2 separate regions of the Homo sapiens genome follow, and region 1 is linked to region 2. Evidence: fine-mapped expression QTL. A gene starts in region 2. The other region holds a variant in brackets. All regions are shown on one strand. Distances are from middle to middle.

What was found. PIP is the estimated chance that this variant, and not a neighbour inherited with it, causes the effect.
Region 1: its variant is fine-mapped to the expression of KCTD10 in lung (TOPMed, PIP above 0.99). The same link has a PIP of 0.9 or more in fibroblasts, subcutaneous fat, tibial artery and tibial nerve.

What each region holds. Positions count from the first base shown.
Region 1 is chr12:109,445,971-109,455,107 of GRCh38, reverse strand. It overlaps MYO1H (myosin IH), which reads right to left. Exons shown (of 32, transcript NM_001101421.4): 32 at 6,729-7,949. The coding sequence ends at 7,926. It overlaps KCTD10 (potassium channel tetramerization domain containing 10), which reads left to right. Exons shown (of 7, transcript NM_031954.5): 7 at 3,295-6,453. The coding sequence ends at 3,513. Among named protein-coding and RNA genes, the nearest start is that of KCTD10, 27 kb to the left of the region's middle. The variant T/C (reference allele first, on the strand shown) is at 4,431.
Region 2 is chr12:109,471,580-109,480,716 of GRCh38, reverse strand. KCTD10 (potassium channel tetramerization domain containing 10) reads left to right here and starts at 3,417. Exons shown (of 7, transcript NM_031954.5): 1 at 3,417-3,457. The coding sequence starts at 3,455. It overlaps UBE3B (ubiquitin protein ligase E3B), which reads right to left and starts at 3,083. Exons shown (of 28, transcript NM_130466.4): 1 at 2,608-3,083. RefSeq lists enhancers at 3,171-3,260, 3,769-4,504.

The DNA.
Region 1 (9,137 bases), 26 kb after region 2:
CTGCCTCTCTCTCCACATTGGCAAGACATCATGCCCCTTTTCTCCTGTGAACTGTTTTTTTTTTTTCAGGGCTGTGAATTCTTCCTGTAATTAGACCCCCATTCTGTCATGGTTTGATTTTTTAAAAATATACCTGGGCTGCCTCTGCCCTTGGGTAGTAAGAGGAGAGTCACCATATTGATTAAGCTTTAAAAGATTAAGACTTCTCATTTTTAGAGCTTAATAAGGAACAAGGGGATTTAGAGACCACATGGTCTGATCCCAACTGTTTCTAGATTAGCAGACAGGTTCAGGAGTGGCATGTTCTTGTGTTTGTAAAGCTAGTTAGTGGCAGAGCCAGGATGGGAAGCCAAGGGCCTCTTTCTTTTCTCTTTGTTTTGAGAGAGAGTGTTGCTCTGTCACCCAGGCTTGAGTACAGTGACACAATCATAGCTCAATGCAGCCTTGAACTCCTGGGCTCAAGTGATCCTCCTGCCTCAGCCTCCTGAGTAGCTGGGTCCACAGGTGCATGCTACTACACCTGGCTCATTTTATTTATTTTTGTAGGGACTGGCTTTCACTATGTTGCCCAGGCTGGTCTCGACCTCCTGGCCTCAAGTGGTCCTTCTACCTTGGCCTCCCAAAGTGTTGGGATTACAGGCATGAGCCACTGCACCCAGCCCATATCACTCTCCTCTCCTGTCTCATCTCCACTCTGTTATTGAGCCCTGCTGGTAAGTTGTGTTTTTGTTTGAGGTTGTTGGTTATTGTATTTGTCAGTTCTCAAGTGCTCATTTGGTTTTTCTGTCTCCTTGCTGAGACTCCCTATGTTTCCATTTGCTCTAAGAGCATTGGCCCTTACTTACTGGAACAGGTTAATAATAGCTGCTGCCAGGTCTTTGTCAGGTAATTCCAAAACCTTGTGTCACCTTGGCGCTAGCATCTGTGAGTTATTTCCCACAGGAGTTGAGAATTTCTTGGTTCTTGTGTATTGAGAAATTTTGATTGTATCCTAAACATTTTGAATATTGTTAAAGGACTCCAGGCCTTGTTTAAATCCTAGGGAGAACATTGATGTTTTTGTTTTAGCAGGCAATTGACCCAGTTGGGCTCAGGCTGCAAGCTCTAACCAGCCTTCTGTAGTTTGTAGTTGCGGTGACAGTTTGATTTTCAAAGCCTTCAAATCTGTCCTAGCTGTGTGCCATGCTGTGGCCCGTCTGTCCTGGGCAGTATCTCTTGCAGCATTCAGTTCTTTCAGTCTGCGTATGCAGTTTAGGGGTAGATCTTGCAGCTGGGTGTGGGTCTAGGAGTTCATATACAACTTCACAGGCTGCTTTCTCAAGCTCCTCTTCTCCGCAGTTCTCTAAGCTTCCCTGGAGTCCCCTTCTCTGATCGGCCAGCCAGAAAGCTGGGGGTTTGGTTATTCCCCCTTTGCCACCCACTTTCTGTAACCATGCCTGTATTTTGGGCCCAGGAGCATGAAGATAGAAAAAGCAACCAGATTCTCCCAATCCTGCTGAGACCACAGCTCTTCTCATCAGAAAAGAAGGTTCCTTCCCTCAGAGTTTTGACTCCTGCAGTCTCTGGTTGCTGCCACAGGAATGCTCAGGTCTGGGTGCAAGAAAATAAAGAAAAGGACTGAGCATGGTGGCTCACACCTGTAATCCCGCACTTTGGGAGGCCAAAGCAGAAGGATTGCTTGAGTCCAGGAGTTTAAGACCAGCCTGGGCAACATAGCAACACCCCTGTCTCTACCAAAAATTTTTTAAAAAATAGCTGGGCATGGTGGTGTGTGCCTGTAGTCTAAACTACTTGGGAGGCTGAGGTGGGAGAATCATTTAAGCCCAGTAGTTCAAGACCAGCCTGGGCAACATAGCAACACACTCATCTCTACAAAAAGTTAGTTGGGCATGGTGATGCATGCCTATAGTCTCAACTACTTGGGGAGGCTGAGGTGGGAGAATCATTTGAGCCTAGGCGTTCAAGGCTGCAGTGAGCTATGATTGTGCCACTGCACTCCAGCCTGGGTGACAGAGCAACACTCCCTCTCAAAACAAAAAAGAGAAAAGAAAGAGGCCCTTGGACTCCCGTCCTGGCTCTGCCCCTAACCAGCTTCACAAACACAAGAACACGCCACTCCTGAACCTGGTCTGTGAATCAAGAAACAGTTGGGATCAGACCATGTGGTCTCTAAATCCCCTTGCTCCTTATTAAGCTCTAAAAATGAGAAGTCTTAAAATTTTAAAGCTTAATTAGCCAGATCCCATATCTTTTAAAAAAAAAGGAAAGAAAACCAGGATTTCCTCCCAGCCTCTCTGCCTGTTAGACTCTGTTGGCCTCCCTGGCCACTAGAGACCTTCTGGAGGTCTTCTGTCCTGGTGCCATTTCAGGGTTTCAGGCTGCATCAGTGCTGGCAGCAGCAAACAGTAAACTCACTGTTGGGCATTACTCCAAATTCTGTTGTTTCCCCCATCTGCCTGCCATGATTTACTTCTGAGTCCACAGTTAGCTGCTGTGTGCATCCCATTCTGGCTTTGTAGTGTCAGTGAGGAAGACGGGGTAGAGTGTGCCTGCTCCATTTTTCCCAGAACCTCCGAATTCCACCCTGAAAGTGGAGTCTAGTCTGATCAAATGTGTGGGACCTGCTTATGTGGCCCTCTTCCTGTTCATCACACCTTAACCCTGAAGGGCAATGAGCAAACACAATGATTTGCCAAACAGCAGAAGGGCTCATGCCCATTTCGTGGGAGTCCCCAGCTGGACCCTGTACAAAAAACTGCTTTAGAGACTGCTTTAAGGTGTGGAAGGACTTCTGTGCAAGGTTGCAGCTCTGTTAGGAGAAGCATATTAGCACTGACCTAAATGGCCATCCAAGTATGGTTAATTGCATTGTCGTATTTATAATTCCTTGATACAGAATGATCTCTAGGTTAAGTTAGGCACAAGAGGAAGACATGTACAACTCTGTGTGGTGGGCCACCTTGTGTGTTTTTTGAAGTGTGTGAATAAATATGTGTATTACACATATTTACATGCACAGAATCTTTGAGAGGGTAAAATGATGAGAAACTGTACCTTTAAGAAGGGAAACTAGGGGCAGGGAGACCTGTTTCTCTGCATCCCCTTGATTTTCTGTGCATTTAGCACCACATGTAAGTGTTGCCATTGAAAATATCAGTTTATTTAAAAATAATACTGGTGGCCTTCAGCAGAATCCCAGGGGCCTGATTTAGCCTGGCGGCCCTGCTTAAAGTCCAGGTGTTGGCAGAGGGGGTGGGCCATAACTTACCTGCCCTGTATACTGTGGGAACACAGGTGGAGTTTCCCGAAGCCCGGATTTATGAGGAGACCCTGAACATTTTGCTGTATGAGGCCCAGGATGGCCGGGGACCTGACAATGCGCTCCTGGAGGCCACAGGCGGGGCGGCGGGGCGCTCCCACCACCTGGACGAGGACGAGGAGCGGGAGCGGATCGAGCGCGTGCGGAGGATCCACATCAAGCGCCCTGATGACCGGGCCCACCTCCACCAGTGAGCAGGCAAGAGACCGAGCCGCCCTCCTCTCACCGCCCCCACTCCCTGCCGTGCTACACCCAGATCCTGTGCAGGCTGCCGGGCCCCTTCTGCTTCCCTTGGAGCCTGGAGATACTTTTGTAACAAGCCAGATGATTATTTTGGTATTGCTTGACAAGGCAAATTGATTGTCTTGACCCAGGCGTATGACCCCTGTCGTTGAACAAGCTGTGTCTAAGATCTCTACTTTTCATGAGAATCTGAGACTCTTTGGAGCCAGGCTTTCTCGGTTCTCAGAGGAAAAGTATGAATGAGTGTGAAGTGTATGTGAGAACTTTTGTTTGCAATATTTATTTTTGTGGGTGTCGACTTCCTATGTGGGCTTTTTGGGTGACACTCCCTTAAGGGTTCAGTTTGACAATTCTGAGAGTTGTCCTGCAGTTGGAGGCCACCAGAGGTATCTGAGCTCCCTGCTTCCTATTTCATAATCCTCCAGCCCCAGCAGGTCCACTCCTGGTTCCTGTGTGTTTGGCCCGGGCACAATCCCCACTGCTTTGCTAGACGTGCTTTCTGCCATGTGGCTTTGGGCCTAGAGCTTGTTGATAATTGCAGCTTGTGGCAGTGGAAATATGGCTGAATGAGCGTCTAAATCGTTGAGACCAGTGCAACTTTGGGTGCAAGGCTTTGTTTAGGGATCAAGCCTTTTGCCACCTTGGGCTGGTCTTTGGCCTGGTGCTCACTGGGACCCCATATGTCTGCGTAGGAGCAGAACTTTCCATGGCAGTAAGTGTCCAGCTCTGTTTCTGGTTCTTTCCCCAACTCCAGCCCCGTCCAGTTGTTCTCCTGATTGACCCGACTCCACTCCAGGAAGGCCATCTGACCCTGTGACAGGCATAGCTCATAAACTACCCCTCCCTGGGATCCCGCTCCTCTTCAGCC[T/C]CCTTCCCCATGAAGCTGGGCTAACTTTCTAAGTCATTTTGCTTAGAAATTCAGTGTGGCCCATACCCTTTGTCCTCCCAGCCTGGCATCCAGGCAGGGACACCCTCACACCACCAGCCCCAGGGAGCTTCCCTGCTATAAACACAGACCCCCTTGTCTTTGCCTCTGATTTTTACACAGTGTAGAGTGGCCAGCAGTGAACAGGTTGAGGATGTGCGGGTAGATAGATAACTTTGGGTCTGGTTTGTGTCTGTGTTCATGTTTGTTTAAGGGATATGTGTGACTGTGGGTGGGGACGTGTGCTTGTGGGGCACAGGTGGCGGCCCCTGCTGGAGCCCGGCTGGGCGCAGCGCCTATGTAGGACGGGTGTTCTCAGTGACCTACCTCCCAGGCTCCTCTGCACCTGCAAAGGAACAGGAGTGAGTCGTGACTGACAGGGGTGGTTGAGACTAGACTAGGTAGAGTAGTTACCAGGAGATGTGAATGTGCGTCAGGTGATGGATGGGTTTGTCAAGGGAATCGTTACCGTTTTATACCAAAGGTATTAACATGGGCAGCCTTTGACACATGTATTCCAAAAACGAGTTTATATTTTCAAACGGTTTTTACAGCTTAGACTTTGTACTTACTGCCCTGCCTGTGACAGTTGTATGCCTTCATTTTGTATCCAACAGCAAAGTCTACAATAAAACTTTAAAACAATCATGACTGAATGTCAAAATCGTGTATTGGGCAGATGCTTTTTAAACTGTCGTGTGAGAAACTTTTATATTAGGCCATTTGGATTTTATTAAGTGCTAAGGAAAGAGGGCTTACAAAATGTTTCGTAAATATTTTATACTGTTTAAGTGTTAAACACCAACCCTGTCTTTCTTTTGGGTTGAGCTTTTTTAGAAAGTCGAAGTGAATGTTGGCCAGGAAAATGGAAAAGCCATTGTATAAATTTTTTTTTGAGGCGGAGTCTTGCTCTATTGGCCAGGCTGGAGTGTAGTGGCACCATCTCCACTTACCACAACTTGTGCCTCCTGGGTTCAAGCGATTCTGCTGCCTCAGCCTCCCGAGTAGCTGGGATTGCAGGTACCCATCAGCCCATGCCCAGCTAATTTTGTATTTTTAGTAGAGATGGGGTTTCACCATGTTGGCCAGGCTGGTCTTGAACTCCTGACCCTGTGATCCGACCACCTTGGCCTCCCAAAGTGCTGGGATTACAGGTGTGAGTCACCACACCTGGCTGCATAGTGTTTTAAATGTTTGTGTGAAGAATGAGTTTGTGGAACAATTTGATTTGCTGTGGCCTCTATGCCTAATGAGCTAGTGTTTCTGGCAGCTCTCTCTACCCAACTTTGCACTTGTAGTTTTGAGTCTTTGTCTCTCTGGAATATGAACAGGTTTATAAAACATTCCATGGTGAACAATTCTGTCGGCTGCATTATAGCCATGAGTGAATAGACAGCATTGGCTGGTCCAAGCTCTGTTATTGAGTATACAAGGAACTGATTTTTCTTATGTTAGCACTAAGGGCAAAAACCAATATTTATAATGTAAGCACTATCCAGGTAAAACACTGGCCCAAGATTTGGTAAAGAGATTTCATTGCAATGTAATAACTACAGTTTTTTACAAATTGGAACAGCTTTGGTGTGTCGTAATCAAGGGTTTTTTTTGTTTGTTTGTTTCAAATAAGCCATCTGATTGTGGTGACTGGGGCCCATGTCCAAGACAATTCCTGGCATATTCTGTCACCCTCCCGTGGGGCGATCACTGTGTGGGGACCCCATTCCCCAGTTAAAGTGTGTCTCTGTACCTTACAACAGCGATTCAGGACCCAAGTGTGAACAACACTCAGCCCGCCCTCTGGAGCGTGTGCTGTCTTTAGGGCCCTACCCAAAGTCACTGTAACAGTTAAGTGTGTCATTAACCTTTCTGTCTCTTTGCGCCATAAAAAAATGCTCAAAGTTTTAGATGTAGCCACTGTATGTTGTACAAACGTTGGCGACATGTAAAATAAAAGTCATAAAATGCTTCTGTTTTCTGGCTCTTTTCAGGCATGCCCGGCATAACCAGGCCCCTAAAATCGGTTTACAACAAAGGCAGGGCCCCCACGTTCTGCCTCAGCCCCTTAAAGTCGCTCCAGGTGGAAGGGAAAAGACAGTCATGTTTCTGTAGTGTTTGTTTGAATTCAAACACCAAAAGGAAGTCTTGGGGTCAAAGGCTGCCTGGCTCATGAAAAAGTGAATCAGCTGGTGTTACCACTGATTTGCTATTATGGGGCAGAGGGCTTCAGTTCACCAAACCCAATCCCTTGACACATGTGAGTTCCATTTATTTAAAGCAAAATTCAAATTTCACAGCTTTAGGAAATTTCCTTTACTTAGTCTCAGACCATGCACAGTAAGTCATCGATAGGTTCTTGGAAGCTGAGACTTGAAGCAAAACCATGAGGCTAATGGATGTAAACAAGAGTTAAATTCCTACAGCATGTTGCTGGGCACAAAAACATCACCCAATTTCTAAATAAAGACCAAAGCACTTCTCATATTAAACTGTGAAATACATGAGCTACACGTATATTTAATTAAATCAAAAATAAGACCATATTACCTAAGTTTTGGTGAATCGGTAAGTGATGGTGGTCACAGTGGTGGCCGCATACATCAGTAAATAAACGCTTGCAAAGGTGAGATTATACGGAGCCCCTCCCCAGTCACAAGCGTGGCAGGCTCGCTACACGCTTTTGCGCTGTGGCATTTATTGTCCATTTGTGTGCTCATATGCTTTATATACATTTTTATTTTACAATAAAATTTGTATTCATTCGTTCTCCAACCTGCACGTTCAGGGTTGCAGATGGCCAGAGCCCAATCCCAGCAGCTCAGGGCAGAAGGCGGGACCCACCCTGGACAGGATGTCCTCCTCTCACGGGGCTCACGCACCCACACTCACTCAGACTGGGACCGCATAGACACGCCAGTGCACCTGACACACACACCTTGGGGACGTGGGAGGAAACCAGAGCACCCAGAAGAAACCCAGAGACATGGGGAGAACATACAGACTCCACCCAGACAGTGGCCCTGCCCAGGAATCAGATGTCTTATCAACATATAACGAAATGTTATTTGAGAACTTGCTGTACACAGTATTTCATCATGTCTCAGGGCAGCTTGACAGAGGTAGAGAATCTTGCCCACCCTCTAATGACACGTTGGACTGCGCACTGAACATAGATCCTGTCGAGGGTGTTTAGAATTGCGCCTTCGGGTGACCTGGGGTCTGCTTCCAGAAGGTGACATTTTAAATAAGGTGCCATGGGGCAGCTGAGGAGCTGGGATTAGGCTTTGGCCTAACGCCCCTCAGTTTCTTCAGATGTGATCTGTTAGTGCTGCGGGCCTGGTACCTTGAAGAGGTAGCTAACTGGATCCAATCCCCACTTCCCCTGTAGTTTCCTCAGTTGGAGCAAAAATGGCGATGGTAGAGGTCAGACGTCATCCTCTATCAGGACTTCCTCCGGACTGACACCTGGGAGAGAGTCACACTTCGGTTTACAGCCCTTCCCCGCTCCCTTTGCGCAAAAGGAAACAGTTATCACCTCAACTGTCACCATTAGCAAGGTGGGTGTGGAGGGCCTGTGAGAAGCCAGTGCCACCTCCCATGAGACAAGCCAGACTTAGAAACTGGCTCATCGAGGCCTGTCAGCCTCTTCAGCCAGAACCAGTCAGGGAGGAAGATGGACTCCGTGTGACTCCAGAGGAGAGAGACACAGTCTCTGGGGTGTCACTTTTAAGACAGTGTGTAAACTAAAAAGACACCTTATAGTCTACATCCAAAATGATCCTTATTTTAACTTGTCCCCAAAGGAGTTCATTGTGTCTAGGGGCAATTATTTTATATCTACAAAATGATTTTATTTTTTTGAGATGGAGTCTCACTCTATCGCCCAGGCTGGAGTGTAGTGGTGCGATCTCAGCTCACTGCAACCTCCGCCTCCTGTGTTCAAGCAATTCTCCTGCCTCAGCCTCCCTGAGTATCTGGAACTATAGGCATGTGCCACCATGCTCAACTAATTTTTGTATTTTTAGTAGAGACGGAGTTCACCATGTTGGCCAGACTGGTCTCGAACTCCTGACCTCAGGTGATCTGCCCATCTCGGCCTCCCAAAGTGCTGGGATTATAGGCGTGAGCCACCGCGCCGGGCCTGCAAAATGACTTTATAGGTAAATCCACTTAAATTTAAATGTGTATGAGACACTCCATGTTCACAGACCATTTTTTAATTAATTTGTATCAAAATTCTTCCTATAATACAAGATACATTTTAAAGATTCAGCTCCCTCTGCTTTTAACATGTCGTTTTCAGCAAAACTGGATCAAAACAAGCTCCGTGTACTAGCAGCCAGCGAGGACCACTGGGACCCTCAGCCCAGCATGGGCACAGTCAGGGAAGGCAGCGTACTTGTGTGCTCAGGCTAGACTTCTCCCTAACGTAGCCATGGTTCCCAAACCTCTGTGCTTGTTAGATCCATTTTATACCAAAGGTATTAACATGGGCAGCCTTTGACACATGTATTCCAAAAAGCAACTTTATATTTTCTTACATATTTTTTACACATTTCTTTCTTACATATTTTTCTTACGTTTATATTTTCTTGCATCCTGAAGCCTAAGCCGCACCTCCAACCAATTAAGTCTCAGTATCTGGGTGGGACA
Region 2 (9,137 bases):
GTTGGAGCCAGTCCCTAGCTCTGCCACATACTATAGGGAGAATGTCTAAGTCTTTTTTTTTTTTTTAAGGCAGGGTCTCGCTCTGTCATCCAAGCTGGAGTGCAGTGGTGCAATCATGGTTCATTGCAGCTTCTACCTCCCAGGCTCAAGCGATTCTCCCACCTCAGCTTCTCAAGTAGCTGGGACCACAGGTACATACCACCACATCTGGCTAGTTTTTAAATTTTTTGTAGAGGTGGGGTCTCGCTATATTGCCCAGGTTGGTGGTCTCAAACTCCTGGGCTCAAGAGATCCTCCTGCCTTGGCCTCCCAAAATGTTAGGATTACAGGTATGAGCCACCACACTGGGCCCTGAGTCTTTCCATCTTCATCTATTAATTGGCTTAGAGGTTGATAATGAGGACTAAATGTGATGATGCTTATCAGGTACCTATGGAGGTACTTGAGTGCACATTGTAGAGTGTATAGTCAGGAAGTCTAACTGGTGTATTATTTTTATAGACACAAGGATTAAAAAAAAAAAAAAACTCTTCAGCAGAGGCTCCCACCTGGACAGTTACTAAGGTTCTCTGGGTAGGAAATAATGCTGGCAGTCTGACATTTCTCACCCATTAACTTTTTTCCTATCTTAAATGCACTAAGATTCACCAGTCCTGTCCCTTGGGCTATGAACTCCTGGCCCTGTTGTTTAGAGTGAGTAACAGATTCAAGCTCCTCAGGACTGCAAAAGAGCAGGGCCCAAGCCACAAGCACAATGATATGCTCCCTCCATGACATGCAGACAGTGCCTCAATGGCAGAGGGTCCATGGAATTAGAAGGGGAAGAGGGAGCCTCTTCCCAAAAGAAAAACAAAGTTGCATGCAAACTGTACCTAAGCACTGTAAGACGATCTTAAAACTTTCACTTCTCCCAGGGGCCCTCCCAGAATAAGAAATTACTCTTATCCCCTTCCTTGAGATTATTATCCCTTCAGCAATGTTATTGGTTGATTTCTGTTCATATCATATAATAGCCTACACTTTACAGTTTTTCTCATCCTTTCCTATATACCTTCTCCACCTGCACAGTGTATACTATAGTTCGTCAATTAATAAAACACACAATCAAGTGTTTATTAAGTACTTATTTTGCTAAATGCCATGGAGAACCAAAGAAAAGGCTGTGCGCAGCAGAAAAAGTCTTGCATCAGAGAAAGCGGGCCTTGGTTCTTTTTAGTACTCCTTCTATCCGACATTTGGCCAAGTTACTTATCCTCTCTAGGCCTCAGTTTCCTTATGTGTAAATCGAGGGTAATAATAGTGTCTATGTCCTAGGGTTGCTGAAAGGATTAAATGCAACATTTATCCTTCTTGTACCTCAATTTAGTCATCACAACATTGTGATTAGGATTAAATGGGAAAATATTAATATAGGATATCTAAAAGCATGTAGCATGTAAGTGAGCTTTATTGTATTGTCCTTAAGAAGCTTGCAATCTAGTTAGGGAAACAAGAATCATATAGGTAGAAAGATTAGAAAATAAGAGGTTGGTGATAACCAAGATCATTTAAAAAAGTAAATGAGTGCCCATTATGTGTCAAGTCCTTTATAAGTGATCTCATCTAATAAGGAGAGGAGTCCTATGAGAAGATCATTCATGATCTCATCTACTCCAGTCTAGACCATTAGTATGTGGCAGAGTCAAGGCTGTAATAACTAAGAGGCAGGATTCAGACTCTTGTCTTACCTCTATATTTCCAAAGCTGAAGCATCATAAATACCAACTGCTGACTAAGCCAAGAGGATTGTCCCTGTGCAGTAGGAAAAGCTGGGCCACCAGGTTTAATGACCACCACCACTTGTTCTGGGCAGACGGTGTATCAGACACTGCACAGATTATTTAACCAACTTGTCTTTTCAACAGCTCTATCAGTTCTCGATAATCTTTGTTTTTTTGAGACGGAGTCTCACTTTGTTGCCCAGGCTGGAGTGCAGCGGCGCGAACTCTGCTCACTGCAACCTCCGCCTCCCAGGTTCAAGTGATTCTCCTGCTTCAGCCTCCCAAGTCGCTGGGATTAAAGGCGCCCGCCACCACGCCCGGCTAATTTTTGTATTTTTAGTAGAGATGCGGTTTCACCATGTTGGCCACGCTGGTCTTGAACTTCTGACCTCAGGTGATCCGCCCGCCTCGGCCTCCCAAAGTGCTAGGATTACAGGCGTGAGCCACCGTGGCCAGCCTCAATAATCTAATTTTTATTTAAAGAATAGGAAACACGACTTAAAGAGACTATTCATATTAACAGCTACTATTTATTGAAAGCTACAGCCTATCTAAGGTGGATGCTTTTGAATCTGAATCCATGTATATCCAAAACAGTTATTTATCACTAAGTAAAACAAACAAGATCCAGGGCTCCCCCGTTCACAGAATGGCCAAGCAAAGAGAAGTTGAGAGTGCAAGATTGCCTGTGGGGGCTAAGCTGGAGTTAAATTACGATCAAGTTTTTCTTTATTCAGAACTAGGTGTCAGGCACGGTACTAAAACGTATTCACACCCTCTGTGAAACCTGCTAATTACTCCATTTACACAGAAGGAAACTGAGGCTCAGAGAGGTGAGGGAACTCACCCAAGGTCACACAGCGAGCGAACAGTATTCGAACTCCAGTTTAGGTGAGTCCTGGGGCCCAGAGTCTTTCCTCGGCATCAACAACCACAGGAACAAATCACCCAGCATTAGTCCGTTTATAAAGGCCTACCGTCCCCAAAGTGAAAAGAGGTGGAAAGGGCCGCGGAAAGAGCCCCTGGAGCACACACGCCAGATCCCAGCACTTGTTCCTCCGACCTGGCCAGGCAGGGACTGTGCCCTAGAGCCAACTCCCTCAAAGTCCCCAGCCCCACCACTCGGAGGACTGACGACCCAGTTCTCCCGCAGGCCGGACCGCAGGCCCTACCGGCCTACCCGCAGGCCGACCTTTATTCGCCGGAGGTCCCCGCACTTGGGGTCGGGGCCGCAGCTGCCACTGTCTCAGCCCAAAACACCCGAGTTCTGCCAGACCCGGGGCAGCAGCCGACGCACTACCGCCATCTTGCCCCGCGGTGTTCGCTTTCAGAACCCCGCCAGGAAGCAAGCATCCAGTTCCGGAAAATGACAGTTCCGCAGAGCTTCTTCGCCCGGGAAGGAAAACTTCCCCACACCTTGCCTCCCCTCTGGCAGCTGAAATAGCGGAGGTGGGATAAATGCCCTCCCCAGCCGAGAAAAGCTGGAACCCACTCCGGCCGGGGAGGCTGGAAAGAAAACTGGCCCCTAGGCGCACAACGGACGGCTTAAGACGTTGCCCTCTGCGGGGCGGAAGTGGGGTGCGGACAGCGGAAGTTATCGCTCCGGCCCCGCCTCCGCCCCCGGCTGGCGTGAGCTGGGTGTTTCCTGCCTCTCTCAGTCCGGGTTTGGAGACTCCTGCGTCCTCCGACTTTTCATGGTAGGGAGGGCGGTGCCCATGGACTAGGGGTTGAGGGCGGCCGAGGGAGCTGGGCAGCAGCAGAGTATAAGAAGGGACCGAGAGGAGGGGGTGTGATGAGGGGCAGTCACGATAGTGGAGAGGCATTTGGGGGATTGGTTAGGGGAAAGGCCCGGGGTGGGGGAAGGGCTTTGGGTGGAGAATTAGGGGCGGGGGTGGTGGTAGGGAGGCTCCCTGGCGGTTAGGAATCCGGGAAGCACATTTGGGCTTGCGGAGTAGATACGTGTGTGCGTGAGGAAGGGGTGTCTCCAAGTGAGTCCTGAGTGCTGGTTGGAGATGGGAGTTGGTGATTGCGAGGAGAACAAAGAGATATCAATTGAAAACGGACATTTGGGGGTGGAAAATGAGGATTTGGAGGATTATGAAGGAGAATGAATGGGCAGGTTATGAGAAGGTGAGGTAGGATTCCTTGGGGCGGAGCGTTTGGCGTTTTGGAGGTTGTGGCTGGAGTCGCTGAGTTTCCAGGAAGTGGGGAAGGGGCTCCCAGGTGCGTCTGAACACACGGCCCAGTGAGGGAAAGAAATCGAGAGAGCCCAGCAGGCTGATGTGCGTTCAGTGCTTGGAATCCTGGGGAGAGATGCCAGGGGCCTGAGGTTAGGATACCTGCGCCACGGAGTTCAGTGCCTCAGCTGGCGCCTGGGTACCTATCTGTAACTTCCATTGAGGCCAGAGGTGACCACGCCTAAGGAGCGGAGGATGTTTCAAGATCTGTCTCTCAGCTGTGGGGTTTGTCTGCTTGGGATCCTCAAGGGTCTGTTCCCTGAGTAGCTCATTGTCCCTGGGTAGAGATGACCAAAGATTGGCCCAGATCTTCTTTCTACTTGCTTGCTTGTTTGTCACGTCCCTGGAAAGTGCAGTCTTAAGGGAAAATCAGTCCCAGTGACGCTGCTGAAGAAAAGTCAGTTATCCTGTAGCTGACGTTGACTAGTCCGCTCCATTTTGTGCAAAATAAGGACCAGCGGATGGGAAGAAGGCAGCATAAACCAGTGGTTCTCAAACTCTGGTCCCACCAGCAGCAACACCTGGTAACTTATTCAAAATGGCTGAAATTTCAAGCCCTGTCAGAGACTACTGAATCAGACATTCTTGGGGTGGAGCCCATCTATCGGTTTTAACAAGCCCTGCAAGGGATTAGACTAATGATTTCTTGATTTGGACTGTGTAATGAAAGGGGCAAAGGAGTTGGGAGTCAGAGGGCTCTTATAGGTGTGATTCCTAGTTTTCTCCCCAAAAAAGTGGGGTTGATGATAAACATCTTTCTCACTAGAACATTGAGAGAAATAGACCAAGAGTTTGTGTATTAAACACAGGGAGAGAATGTCATTTGATGGAAGTTGCAATTGGCGGTAGCTGTCTTATAAGCAAATTTTGGATGTAAAATGCTGCAATTATGTGACTTAGTTTAGTTGAAATGTAACAGCAGACTTTTCTGAGTTGTAGAAATGCCCTCAGTTTGGGAAGGTTTTATACAAGCCTCAATACAGTGTTTCTTAAACTTCTTTGCTGTAGGAATCCCCTGAGGTGATGCTTTGCCTCACATCCCTGGCAACTCTTAGATAAAGCTGGTTAAATACCTTAGCTAGGTGGCAGTAAGCCCTGGTCCCACATCCGAATCCCCCAAAGAGCTTTTTAAACACTAGTGACTGATCAGCCACCCCTCCGCATCTCTGAGATACTGATTAATTGATCTGGGGTGTAGCCCAGGCAAGCACAGGTGTGTGTGAGTTTGTTTTTGTTTTTTGGAGACAGGGTCTTGCTCTGTCGCCCAGGCTGGAGAGTGCACTGGTATTATCTTGGCTCACTAAAGCCTCACCTTCCCTGCCTCAAGCAGTCCTCCCACCGCAGTCTCCCGAGTAGCTGGGACTACAGGTGTGTGCCACCATGACCGGTTAATTTTTTTTTTTAATTTTTTTGTGGAGATTAGGTCTTATGTTGCTCAGGCTGGTCTCGAATTCCTGGGCTCAAGCAATCCTCCCGCCTCAGCCTCCCAAAGTGCTGGGATAATGGGTGTGAGCCACTGTGCCTGGCCTGGCATCATGTTTTTTAAGCACACGCAGGTGATTCTAGTAGCCAGGGTTGGGAACCACTGATCCCAATGTTTGAGACGCCCAAAGGAAACTACACAAAGGACTAGGTGCCAAATGCTTTAACATTCATTCTCTGAGGGTTTTGAAGATTATGGCTTTAACACTCCATTTTACAAGTTAGAAAACTGAGACTTGGGTTAAATTGCTTGAATTTCACGAAGGAAATGGTGGAACTGGATTGCAATCCAGGTTTGCCGAGACTATCCCGTTTTCCTTAACACACACACAGGCACACAAGACTTCTACAGAGAAGCATATAGAAAACGTGGGGTCAGGGATTTGGTGCGTTTTTTCCTACTGTACTTGCCTGAGCCTCCTTTTCAGTCGATGATTTTCCCCCTTCAGCTGATTTTTGTATTTTCATGCATGCATACAGTTGCTTCCTCCCTGTGGCTCTGAAGCTGTGAAGTGGGGGCTGGCTTTGGTTTATGGTGTTTTGGTTTGTTTTTAATGTGTCAGGTCAGGAATTCACTGGGCCAAGACCGTGGAGTTAATGGTAGCTTAAATAAGGGGTACAGTGCTTTTTAGAATAGTGGGCTCTAATCTTGGTGGGCTTTAAAATCTCCTGAGGGAGTTTTAAAAATTCTGTTGCCTAGTCCACATCCCGGACCAATTACATCAGAATTTTCATGGTAGGACCTAGGTGTCAGGAGTTTTGAGCTCCCAGCTGATTTCGATTGTCACCAACTGGAGAGCCACTGTTTAGAATCAGCAACATTATATTCAGGGGAGATGGAGAGAAGAGAGACTGACCATTTAACTGGAATAAACTTCTGATTGAATCAGATCCGTAGCCAGTATCTCAAGTATTCATTGCCTCTCTGTTTCATGTAACCAATTTTGCTGTCTCCTGCTTCACCTCCCCAGCTTCATTGGTAATGAAATCAAACCTTTGAAACAAGTCAAAAAGCAGGATCCTGGCCAGGCACGGTGGTTCATGCCTGTAATCTCAGCACTTTGGGAGGCCGAGGCAGATGGATCACTTGAGGTCGGGAGTTCGAGACCAGCCTGACCAATGTGGAGAAATCCCGTCTGTACTAAAAATACAAAATTAGCCAGTCGCGGTGGCTCACACCTGTAATCCGAGCACTTTGGGATGCCGAGGCAGAAGGATCACCTGAGGTCAGGAGTTTGAGACCAGCCTGACCAACATGGTGAAACCCCATCTCTACTAACAATATAAAATTAGCCAGGTGTGGTGGTGCATGCCTGTAATCCCAGCTACTCGGGAGGGTGAGGCAGGAGAATTGCTTGAACCTGGGAGGCAGACGTTGCGGTGAGCTGAGATCGTGCCGTTGTACTGTAGCCTGGGCAATAAGAGCAAAACTCAGTCTCAAAAAAAAAAAAAAAAGCAGGATTCCAGTAGCAACAGTGGGGAGAGTCCTCCCTAGAGAGGTTTGCTATGGTGGGGGTCTCTGGTCCACTGCCTCGTGTCCTAAGTTCACTGTAACTTGGGCTCAAGGACACGAATGCTGCCAAAACTTTTCCCCCAAGGGCCTTGCCTACTATTAGGTTGACTGACCTTTGGAGAGGGTGAGCTCTGAAAAGGTTTAGAGCTTTTGTTGCCTAATCTGTAGTCTCATTCTAGATCAGGATGGCTCCTGCCTTTATCTCTTAGTCATGCCGTCTGCCATTAGAGCTGGAAACAGTTTCCAAAGAGAAGATAGTTTGAGACTTCGGGAGCATTCTCAAATCATCATAATTTGAGTGTTTGGAGTGTTTACTCAGAGCTAGGGAGCCCTGTGAGGGAGGTGAGGCTTTTGGCCCTGGACACAGCTACTAAGTGGTAGGGCTGGGGCCTTATGCACAGGTCTAACTCCAAACCCTTAGCCACACTTTACCTCGCGACTATTTTCAGGGCTTTTTGTACTTTTTAAAGAAGGGAGGTGAGGCTGGCCTTTCTCAGCTTATGTATCATAGCTCTCAATCTACTAGGTGTGATGGTCTCTGGGCCAGCCACCACTTGCCCATGTCCTTCACTGGCCCCGTCACTGACTCAACTCCAGCTTGAGAGTGACTGACCCTGATGGGGCTGTGGCATCCAAATCCACAAAATGGAAATAACTATAGCTGTCTTCCAGCATTGTTTGAATTTGTAAAAGGCATGTGGTAGAAATGCAGTGGTCAAGGGACACCGAGGGGCTTTCTGGAGGCATGGAAATGTTCCAAGACAGCTTGATTGGAGTGGGGGCTACACAGGTGCAAGTATTGACCAAAACACATCAAACTGTACACTTAAAGTATACTTCATTATGTGCAAATTATCTTTAAAAAGGTATTGGAAAGCCAAAAAAGGTACAGTCATGCGCACATAATGACAGTTTGGTTAGTGACAGACTGCGTATATAACAGTCCCTTAAGATTATAATGGAACTGAAAAATTCCTGTAGCCCAGTGATAGTGTAGCTGTCATTTCAGTGGTAGCACAACATATTACGTGTTCGTGGTGATGCTGGTGTAAACAGAACTACTTTGCTGCCAGTTGTATAAGTCTAGCACACACAATTATGTACAGTACATAATAGTCGATAATAGTAATGAACTTGATAGATATATCACTGGTTAATGTATTTACTATTAATGGTTATTTTAGAATATACTCCTACCTGCCTTTTTTTTTTTAAGTGAAAACTGTAAAACAGCCTCAGGCAGGTGCTTCTGGAGGTATCCCAGAAGAAGGGATTCTTACGGGAGATGACAGTTCCATGCGTGTTACTGTCCCTGAAGACCTTCTAGTGGGACAGGATGTGGAGGACAGTGATACTGATAATCCTGACCCTGTGTAGGCTAGGCTAATGTGTGTGTATTTTGTAGTTTTGGATAAAAAAGTTTAAAAAGTAAAAAAAGAGAAAAAAGCTTATAGAATAAGGATATAAAGAAAGAAAATATTTTTGTACAGCTGTGCAATATGTGTTTTAAGCTATGTTATTACAAAAGGGTCCAAAAGTTAAAAAAAAATTAAAAAGTTTTTAAAGTAAAAAGTTACAGTAAGCAAAGGTTAATTTATTATGGAAAGAAAAAATATTTTAAATAAATGTAGTGTGGCCTCCCTGTGCAGTGTTGATAAAGCTACAGTAGTGTACAGTAATGTCCTAGACCTTCACATTTACTCACCACTCGCTCACCCAGAGCAATTTCCAGGCCTACACACTCCATTCATGGTAAGTGTCCTATACAAGTATGCCATTAGAAAAAAATCCTTCATATCACATATTTACTGTGCTTTGACTTTACATGAAGTATACTTTATGTACTTTTTTGTCTGTTTCATGATAGGCACCTTCCAAAATGCTAGATCGTTTCCCATAACAAGCATTTATTATATAAAATTAGATCTGAAAGGGGTGCTTAAAAAGTATTTGCATTTTGGGGCAAATTTCCTCAACACACACCCTCACCCATGACCGTAAGCCTTTTCTCCCCCCCTTCGAGGTCTTCACAGTTTTTGGAAACTTTTATTTCCATAAGCTACTCCTGTCATCCCATGGACAAAGGATTTTTCTGAGGGAGGTGGCTGGTCATAACTGTTAGTGTGAGGTCTCTGGGGACTGATT